3 linked regions of the Homo sapiens genome follow. The protein of the gene in region 2 purifies or fractionates together with the protein of the main gene of each other region. This does not show direct contact. Each region holds a gene or a part of one and is shown on either strand. Other genes may lie near its edges.

The links.
Region 1: the proteins of SMOC1 (region 2) and CTH purify together in Homo sapiens (affinity purification with mass spectrometry; one large-scale study listed by BioGRID and IntAct). This does not show direct contact.
Region 3: the proteins of SMOC1 (region 2) and P2RY8 purify together in Homo sapiens (co-immunoprecipitation; one large-scale study listed by IntAct). This does not show direct contact.

Annotation. Positions count from the first base shown.
Region 1 is NC_000001.11:70,421,133-70,424,791, reverse strand, and holds part of CTH (cystathionine gamma-lyase), read right to left. Parts: intron 3,227-3,659; coding exon 3,117-3,226; intron 1,659-3,116; exon of another isoform or gene 1,520-1,658; intron 508-1,519; coding exon 376-507; intron 1-375. UniProt on the Homo sapiens protein: Catalyzes the last step in the trans-sulfuration pathway from L-methionine to L-cysteine in a pyridoxal-5'-phosphate (PLP)-dependent manner, which consists on cleaving the L,L-cystathionine molecule into L-cysteine, ammonia and 2-oxobutanoate.
Region 2 is NC_000014.9:69,882,257-69,885,915, reverse strand, and holds part of SMOC1 (SPARC-related modular calcium-binding protein 1 isoform 1 precursor), read right to left. Parts: intron 635-3,659; exon of another isoform or gene 1-634. UniProt on the Homo sapiens protein: Plays essential roles in both eye and limb development. Probable regulator of osteoblast differentiation.
Region 3 is NC_000023.11:1,527,098-1,530,756, forward strand, and holds part of P2RY8 (S-geranylgeranyl-glutathione receptor P2RY8), read right to left. Parts: intron 1-3,659. UniProt on the Homo sapiens protein: G protein-coupled receptor for S-geranylgeranyl-glutathione (GGG), an endogenous metabolite present in lymphoid tissues.

The sequences.
Region 1 (3,659 bases), on a different chromosome or scaffold from region 2:
GCGCCCAGCTAATTTTTTGTATTTTTAGTAGAGACGGGGTTTCACCATGGTCTTGATCCCTGATCTCCTGATCCGCCCGCCTCGGCCTCCCAAAGTGCTGGGATTACAGGCGTGAGCCACCACGCACAGCCCTGAGAACTGGTAAGCTTTAATAAATAAAAAACACAAAGTAACATAGAGGATATTAACATAGGTTTGAAAAGATATTAACTAATGGTAGAAGAGGTCCAAATTTAATTCTCGATCCAGTAAATAATTAATTATGATTAGATTTCATGAATTTGATCATGATTTTAATTTAAGCAAGTCCTTTCTTTCCTAATTACAGATATATGTGGTCTACTAATTGTGCCAAAAAAAATTATTTTCATTTACCTGGAAATATGGTGACATAAAAGTGTTATCCACGACCAAAATAATGTCTCCATGCTTATGGACAATATGTGCACAGCCTTCAATGTCAATCACCTTCTGGGTGGGGTTTGTGGGGGTTTCGATCCAAACAAGCTAAAATAATTCAGCAAATAACAGTAGTTTGTAAAAATATACTTTACAAACATACATCTCATATATTGTAACAATCTGGGAAGCTACATTGTATAATGGAAACACATGGATGATGATGTTGGGAGGTTCAAATCTGAATCCCAGCCTTACCTGCAAATTTCTGAAGCCGTAGGTATGTAATGTATCCTATTGATCTGTATAATTGGGTTGGTAATACCTATCTTACAGAATTTTTTGTAAAGATCAAGTGAGATAACGTACATGTAAACAGAAAAGTACTAAAGTTAATTATTGTACTTTTCTTAAAAAAGAAAGTGTATTCCAAAGACAGCTCAGTGTCTGGAAATTTTGTCTCAGAGATGAATAACATAGATTGTGTAAGAATACATCCTAGAATTTTAATGAAAGAGAATTATCCCTATGATGCCAAAAATATATTTAATATGAACTTAATGCCAGAAACTCTAGAAACTATAGAATAAGTATCTAAGACTTGAAGAGCATGGGCTTTAGACTAAAGAAGAAAAGTGACACCCACAACAGAAAACGTGGTTACCGCCTACTTAAAAAGTAACAATGACCTTTATATCTCAAAACCTACCACAATTCAGACACATGGTAGATGCTTGATAGTTATCAAAAAGACCAAAGAAAAGAATTCTATTTGTTGAACGAAATGCCATTGTACTGAATTACTTTCTTTTTTTTTTTTAAGCAGCAGGGTCTCACTTTGTTGCCCAGGCTAGAGTGCAGTGGCATGATCACAGCTAACGGCAGCTTCGACCTTTCAGGCCCAAGTGATCCTCCTACCTCAGCCTCTCCAGTAGTTGGAACTACAGGCATGTGCCACCATGCTCGGCCAATTATTATTATTATTTTTTTTTTTTTGCAGAGAAAGGGTCTCGCTATATATCTTGAACTCCTGGTTCAAGTGATCCTCCTGCCTCAGCCTCCCAAAGTGCTGGTATTACAGGCATGAGCCACTGTGCCCAGCTGATTCTTTTTTTATTACCTGTTATTTAAATGGGCAAGAGATCTGGTTTAAACTCTTCTGACTTTAGAGTTTTACTCTGGAAAAGATAAGATGGTTAAATAATACATATTCTACAAAAATCTTGAATTATTTAAAGAATCTATAAAAATTATTCCTGGTAAGAATTTATTATTCCTACTGATAATAAAAAAAATAAAAATTACCAAATAAATAAAAAGTAGGTTTTACATGGACTTAAACATTCTACTTCAAGTGAAAAACCTGATATTTTAGGAAGGAAAAGGTATTAATTCAAGTTGGTAGAGTCACTATATAAAATTCTGTTGACAAGACTTACTGTACTCATAATTTGCTTTCCTCCCTTAGAAAGATTCAGACCAGGGCCCGGCACGGTGGCTCATGCCTGTAATCGCAGCACTTTGGGAGGCTGAGGCAGGCGGATCACAAGGTCAGGAGTTCAAGATCAGCCTGGCCAACAAGGTGAAACCCCATCTCTACTAAAAATACAAAAATTAGCTGAGCATGGTGATGGGCGCCTGTAATCCCAGCTACTCGGTAGGCTGAGGCAGGAGAATCATTTGAACCCAAGAGGCAGAGCTTGCAGTGAGCTGGGATTGCGCCATTGCACTACAGCCTGGGTGACAGGGTGAGACTCCGTCTCAAAAAAAAAAAAAAAAAAAAGACTCAGACCAGCTATTTTAATGTGACTTTTCTCCCAAGCAAGATAAAAAACAAGTTCTTCTGGAAACAAACCTTAATTACCAAAAGCTCAACCATGTTAATGTGCAAAGTAATTATTTGTACATGAAAAGATATTTATTTTTTAGCATTCATTGCAACATAATCTTGGGTACAATTCTAACCTTTTAATCATTAGCAAAAAGTTGTAAACAGCTGACTTATAAAAGACACTGGTCCTTCTTTTATCCACACAGAATTTAAATAAGGTCCCAAGAAAGAATATCACATATGCCATTCACTCAGACACAAAACACCTTCCGGTGGCATACAAATTTCCCAGGATGGAAGCTAAAGATTGCTTGTGGCCTATTCTCCACATCTAACTAGTATCTGGGCAGCATCCCTTACAGCCCGGCAAAGCCACTGTGCTTCGAGTTTGGGGGTTTGGCAGGCTTCTTTTTCTATAGTCCAATCTCTGTGATGACTTCTGTTACCAATACTCTTTTGGCTATGCAGTTAAAAATTAGGTGCTCCTGCATAGAAATTTTTTTAACAATTACCATGTATCCAGGAACTATACTAAGCATTTCATATTCATTATCTCATTTGATTCTCACACTCCCGTTTCTATAAAACCGGTATAATTATCTCCATTTTGCAAATGAAGAAACTGAGACTTTGGTTAAATAATTTGCCCAAGATAATATACTAACTAAGATAACAGAATCACAATTTGAATTCTACTCCAGAAATCATGTACTACCATTATGCTATAACACCCCGGAGATGACAGTCTATCTTAATTTTGTTGATGTTTCCAATGGCATAAAATAAAATTTGTTATTCACATTAAATTATATCCTCTAGTAAACAGAAATGATGAAAACAAAACATCGAAGGAAAAACAGGCAAAACTGAAAATGAGCTGAGTTACCTTGGTTTCTGGTGTAATTGCTGCCTCTAGTAATTTGATTTTGGAACAATCAACAAAAGAAATCTTTAATCCAAATTCAGATGCCACTTGCCTGAAGTACCTGTTTGTACCTGAGACAGAAGGGAATCAGATAAAATGAAAAGAACATTGCATTAAGAAACATTCATTCCTTCTATGTATAAACACTTACAAAATATATGGAACTCTCAGTCACCAAGGAAAATGCAACTAAAAGCAATTCTAGTTTGGTTAAATAGTTTGGCTATCTGATATAGTAAAGAATAATAAGGTTTGTTCTCTAAAGGCTCAAGAGTCAAATAAAACACACTTGAGATCCAAAAGTAGCATGAAGCAAATAATGTTTTTCAAAACATCCAATCTCCACTAAGTGACATGCTTCCTGAAACATCATATCTTTTCAAACAATTTCTACCTAGTTCTCAACTCTAAACTAAATGAATCAATGTCAATGAAAGGTTCAAAATAAATTTCAATATACTTTGTAATGGAAAAGAATTGGTTACTATTCTTTGTACTTTTTTG
Region 2 (3,659 bases):
GTGCCTCCTGCGATTAACCAGTTCACCCAGGCCCTGGACCGCCAAACAGCTACTCAGCTGCTTAAGCTGGCCCACAAGTACAGGCCAGAGACAAAGCAAGAGAAGAAGCAGAGACTGTTGGCCCGGGCCGAGAAGAAAGCTGCTGGCAAAGGGGACGTCCCGAAGAAGAGACCACCTGTCCTTCGAGCAGGAGTTAACACTGTCACCACCTTGGTGGAGAACAAGAAAGCTCAGCTGGTGGTGATTTCACACGACATGGATCCCATCGAGCTGGTTGTCTTCTTGCCTGCCCTATGTCGTAAAATGGGGGTCCCTTACTGCATTATCAAGGGGAAGGCAAGACTGGGACGTCTAGTCCACAGGAAGACCTGCACCACTGTCGCCTTCACACAGGTGAACTCAGAAGACAAAGGCGCTTTGGCTAAGCTGGTGGAAGCTATCAGGACCAATTACAATGACAGATACGATGAGATCCGCCGTCACTGGGGTGGCAATGTCCTGGGTCCTAAGTCTGTGGCTCGTATCGCCAAGCGCAAAAAGGCAAAGGCTAAAGAACTTGCCACTAAACTGGGTTAAATGTACACTGTTGAGTTTTCTGTACATAAAAATAATTAAAATAATACAAATTTTCCTTAAAAAAAAAAAAAAAGAAGTTGTTCGAAGGAGAGAGTAATCGTTCCTAAGCAAAAAGAATGCTCTGTAGAAAAGTTCCTAGAGAGTAATGTTGGAACTGGGTTTTGAAGGATGAATCAAGTGATCAAGAGGTGAGAGAAGAAATAACAAATATCTAAAACATTTAAGAAATAAGTTTCAGGTTGAAGAATACACAAATGAATGGAAAGAGATGTCACGTTCATGAATTGGAAGAGCAAATGTTGTGAAAATGTCTATACTTCCCAAAGCAATCTACAGATTCAGTGCAATCCCTATAAAAATACTAAGATGTTCTTCATAGAAATAGAAAAAAAAACCCTAAAATTTTTGTAGAACCACAAAAGACCCTGAATAGCCAAAGCAAAGTAAAAAGTAACAAGAACAAAGCCAGAGGCATCACACTATATGACTTCAAAATAAACTACAAAGCTATAGAACCAAGACAGCATGGTAATGGCATAAAAACAGACACATAGACCAATGGAACAGAAGACAGAGCCCAAAAATAAATCCACGCATTTACAGACAACTGATTTCAACAAAGGTACCAAGAACACACAATGGGGAAAGGAAAATCTTCAATAAATGGTGTTAGGAAAACTGGATATCCACATGCAGAAGAATGAAATTAGACCCTCATCTCTCACCATATACAAAAATTGACTCAAATGAATTAAAGACTTAAATGTAAGATCCAAAACTATGACACTATTAAAAGAAAACATAGGGGGAAAGCTCCATGACTTTGGTTTGGGGACCTCAAAAGCACAAGCAACAAAAGCAAAAATAGACAAATGAAATTATACCAAACTAAAAAGCTTCTACACACCAAGGAAAACAATTAACCAAGTAAAGAGATAACCTAGAGAATGGGAGAACATATTCACAAACTGTATATCTGATAAGGAGTTAATATGCAAAGTACACAGAGAACTCAAATCACTTAATAGCAAAAAAAACAAAAAACAATGCAATGAAAAAATGGGCAAAAGATCTGAATAGGTATTTCTCAAAAGAAGACATAGAAATGGGCAATAGGTATATTTAAAAATGCTCGGCCGGGCGCGGTGGCTCACGCCTGTAGTCCCAACACTTTGGGAGGCCGAGGCGGGTGGATCATGAGGTCGGGAGATCGAGACCATCCTGGCTAACAAGGTGAAACCCCGTCTCTACTAAAAATACAAAAAATTAGCCGGGCGCGGTGGCGGGCGCCTGTAGTCCCAGCTACTCGGGAGGCTGAGGCAGGAGAATGGCGTGAACCCGGGAAGCGGAGCTTGCAGTGAGCCAAGATTGCGCCACTGCAGTCCGCAGTCCGGCCTGGGCGACAGAGCGAGACTCCGTCTCAAAAAAAAAAAAAAAAAAAAAAAAAAAATGCTCAACATCACTAATCATCAGGGAAATGCATTCAAACCACAATGAGATACCACCTCACTCCAGTTAGAATGGCTATTATCAAAAAGACAAAAAACAACAAGTGCTGGTAAGGATATGGAGAAAAGGGAGTTCTCACATACTGTTGGTGGGAACATAAATTAGTACAGCCATCATGAGAAACAGTAAAAACATTCCTCAAAAAATTTAAAGCAGAACTAGCATATGATCCAGCAATCTCACTGCTGGACATTTATCCAAAGGAAATGAAATCAGTATGTTGAAGAAATACCTGTTCTCCCATGTTTATTGCAGCATTGTTCACAATAGCCAGGATATGAAATCAACCTAATTGTCTATCAGTGGATGAATGGATAGAGAAAATATGGTATATATACACAAGGAATACTATTCAGCCACAGAAAAGAATGAAGTCCTGTCATTTGCAACAATGTAGATGAACCTGGAGGACGTTAAGAAAAGTAAGCCAGCCACAGAAGGACAGATACTGCATAATCTCACTCATATGTGGAATCTAAAAAAATTGGTCTCATAGAAGTAGAAAGTAGAACAGTGGTTACCAGAGGCTGAGGAAGGAAGAGGGGAGAGGGAAAGGAGAGAGGTTGGTCAAAGGGTACATAATTATAGTTAGAGAGGAGTAATAAATTCAAGAGATCTATTCAAAGTGACTATAGTTAATGACAAGTTATTGTATCCTTGAAAAATGCAAAGAGTGGATGTTAAGTGCTCTCACCACAAAAATAATAATTATGCGAGGTAATGCTATCATTAATTAGCTAGATTTAACTATTTCATAATGTATATATACTTCAAAACATCATATTGTGCACAATAAATACATACAATGCTATCTGTCAAATTTAAAAAATAAAAATCCATTTCTGACTCAGACCTCTTGATCTTCGCATCATCTCCTATTTCTCACACTTCTTAAATCTAGTTCCTGCCTCCAGTCAAAGTGGAACCTGTAATCACTCTCAAACACACATTATCTGCATTTATTTGTTCATTCCATCAGTACCAACAAAGTAAATCTTGACAGGTGTCTGGCCCCTTGCTGAGCTCTGGAGATAAATCCCTGGACAAGACAGAAACAGTTCCTGCCTTCACCCAGCTTTCCATCTTCAAGGGAGACACAGAATTTAACAAAGACAGGCAGTTGGCTTGACCATCGGCCAGACACCATCAGCCAGGGAGAGCCCCTCCCCCATCCCATCCTCCCCTGAAACATTTTCAGTAAATTGTGCAGGATTAAAGAAACGGCTGCCTCCTCAGTGATTAAAAGAATCCTGACCAACGTCCCAGCTAGCCAAGCAACCACTCACAGTTGAGAGACCCCAAAATCAGGTGCTTCCTACATAATAGCCTCCAATCTGATACTCGATAGCCGCTGGTTTCCAGAGTCAAACAAATGTCAAGAATTTTATGAAGGAAGGCAGGAAGCAAATAAGGGGGCGAGGACTGGGGTCTAGGCCTCGGGGGAGCTCAATTAGTGAGCCAGATAAAGTTAAACTGAAAGGGCATGCTCTTGGTTTCCTAGAAAGCCAGCTGGAAAAGATGCCAATCCTTAAGCCTCTGTCACTCAAAAGATTAACAGAAGAGACTTAGGAGCG
Region 3 (3,659 bases), on a different chromosome or scaffold from region 2:
CTGGCCAGGCTGGTCTTAAATTCCTGACCTCAGGTGATCCGCCTACCTCAGACTCCCAAAGTGCTGGGATTACAGGCGTGAGCCACCGCGCCCAGCCTATTCATTCATTTCTTATCCATCCACCTACCTATCCATCTGTTCATCCGTCCATCTATTTATTCATTCATCTACTCATTCATTCATTCATCCACTTATTCATTCCTTATCCATCCACTCATCTATCCATCCATCCATCCATCCGTTTATCCATCCACTTATCCATACATCCACTATTCATTTGCCCATTCATTTATTCATGATCCATTCATTCACTCATTCATTTATCTATTCATTCATTCATTTATTCCTTATCCATCCACTCATCCATCCATCCGTTCATCCTTCAATCCATCCATTCAGTCATCCACCCATTTATCAATACACCCACTATCATTCACCCATTCATGTATCTATTCATTCAATCATTTATTCCTTATTCATCCACCTATCTATCCATCTGTTCATCCATCCATCCATTTATTCATTCATCTACTCATTCATTCATCCATCCAATCATCCCTTCATTCATTCATTCATCCACTCATTCATTCCTTATCCATTTACTCATCTATCCATCCATCCATCCATCCATCCATTCATCCATTCATCCACTCTTCATTCACCTGTCTACATATCCATCCATCCACTCACTAATGTACTAATCCACTCATTCACTCATTCATTCATTTATTCATTCACCCATCTATTTATGCAGCCATCCATTCAACCATCCAACAAACAGTACTGAGGCCATGTTAATCTATTCTGGTCTCTCATCTACAAAGTCACAGCCCCTACAGGGACCCTGCTCATTCATTCCCTGTGGCTGAGACTGAAGGGGTATCTCCTGTTTCTATTCCACGTGTGGCCACCTGCTGGTCTGTCCCTGTCCTGAGTGCAGGAGTAGTCTCATTCTCCTCCACCCCAAGAACAGATGAGTGATAAATAAATACCTGGAGACAGAATGCCTCCAACCCCAGGGTAATAGCCTGAGTATCCTAGAAGTTTCCTGTGTTCATGCCAAGAGCTTGTGATGGACATATGGACACTGTAGATGGACAACAGCGCCTTCACTGAGCAGCTAGTGCCTGGGAGGCCTCCAGCTTCACTGAGCCTCAGGTTTCATCTATTGCATCTCACAGAGAGGCTGTCTGCAACATGCCCATTTCAACCACTGGCTGAGAGGCTCATGCAGGTATGCATGTGACAGGGCTCCTTGCTGGAGAGTGGGTTCCTGGAGATTCCATCAGAGCTACTGCTGCACAACTGCCCCTTGAGGAGGCCATCACAGCTCTGAGCAGCAGGCGCTGCCAGTCAGCACCGTGTGAACTCAAAGTCTTGCATTCATCCTCATACGACATCTTCAAAACCACTTTAAACGTCCCAGGGAAGCCCGGAGGAGCAAGTGCTTCCAAGAGGCTGGCTCTGGTCTTTGGATTGAGTGTGGATTTGAGTCTCTTTGAATGAGTGTGGATTTGAGTTTCTTTGAATGAGTGTGGATTTGAGTCTCTTTGAATGCGTGTGGGTTTGAGCCTCTTTGAATGATTGTGGACTTGAGTCTCTTTGAATGAGTGTGGATTTGAGTCTCTTTGAATTCGTGTAGGTTTGAGTCTCTGAATGAGTGGACTTGAGTCTGTTTGAATGAGTATGGATTTGAGTCTCTTTGATTGCGTGTGGGTTTGAGTCTCTTTGAATGAGTGTGGATTTGAGTCTCTTTGAATGAGTGTGGACTTGAGTCTCTTTGAATGAGTTGGATTTGAGTCTCTTTGAGTGTGGATTGGAGTCTCTGAATGTGCGTGGATTTGAGTCTCCTCATTCCTGCACTTTTTCAGTTCCCTTTGTTGCATGGGACAGTATAAATGACGCTCCCCATTGATCCAGTTTTGCAAGTAAAAATGTCACATGTGGAAGCCAGCATTTAGTCCTCGGGCAGATAAGCATGTTTGATGAGAATAACACGTACACACAGCGGGGCCCTTGGTCTTGGAAAGGTGGAGAATAAATCCTCCATTTCCCCTGAGACCTGACCTGCACAGGGAATATCTGCTTAATCTACACATGTGTGGCTTGTAACGACAGAGTCTCTTCAATTCTACTTACTTTATTATAGTAACAAGAGCATGCATACAGCACATTGGGAGATGGAGAAATGGAAGGAAGTGATCCAGAGTCCCTTGACCCAGCCCATTCTCTCCCTGAGACCTGGGGGATGGGACATGATCTTGCTTCTCCTTCCAGGTCTCTGGAAGGATCATCTTGTCTTATCTTGCCTGCCTCTCACCCTGTGGTTCAGAATTGCGGGAGATTCTGTTCCAGTGGGGATGCTTGTCTATATCTTGGGCAGTTTGGGGTGTCACAACTGGAGGGTGTACTCCTGGGGCGTGGTGGGTGGAGCCTGGGAAGATGCTCAGTGCCCTGCAGTGCACAGGATAGGCTCAACACAGAGAATCCTCCAGCCCTACATGGCAGCAGTGCTGAGGCTGACACCCTGCCTGAGCATGAGAGAGTCTCTGTTAGTGACTATCTATCCATCTATATCTATCTATCATATCTATCATTTATCAATTTATCTATATATCATATCTAGCTCTCTGGCACCTATATCTATTTATTTATTAATCTTCTCTGTCTGTCATCTATCTATACCTTTCTAGCATTTATCTCTCATCTCTATCATTTATCTGCCTACCATTTGACAGTGGTTTCAACTAGGGGTGATTTTTCTCATCACGGCACACTGGGTAATGTCTGAGGACAGTTCTGGTTGTCGCAACTGTGGGGGTGCTCCTGGCATCTGGTGGGTGGATCCCGGGGATGCTTCTCAATACCTTACACTGCACAGGATGGCCCCACCACAGAGAATCACCCGGCCCCAAATGTCTATAGTGTTGACGTGGAAAGATCCTGCTTTTAGTATAGAGAATCTCTCCTCTCTCTCTCTCTCTCCGTCATCCATCTATGTATCCATGTATCTATGTATCTATGCATCTATGTATGTATGTATGTATGTATGTATGTATGATCTATCTATCTATCTATCTATCTATCTATCTATCTATCTATCTATCTATCTATCTATGTATCCATGTATCTATGTATGTATCTATCTATCTCTATTACCTATCATCACCATTATCTATCTATCTATCTATCTATCTATCTATCTATCTATCTGTCATCTATCTATATGTATGTACATATCTATCTATCTTATCTATTGCTCATCTATCTAGGTATCTCTCTAATCTATCATCTATCTCTCTAATCTATTAATGCACCTATGTATGTATCTATGTATCTATCTATCTAATCTATTTATCCATGTATGTATGTATGTATCTACCTATCTAATCTATGTATGTATGTATATATGTATCTAATTTATGTACGTACATATGTATGTATCTATTCTATCTATGTATCTATCTATCTGATTGATCTATCTCTCTATCATCACCATTATCTATCTATATGTATGTGTGTATCTATCTATCCTATCTATCTATCTCTCATCTATCTATGTATCTCTCTAATCTATCATCTATTTAATCTATGCATCTATATATCTATCTATCTAATCTATTTATCCATGTATGTATGTATCTATCTAATCTATGTAT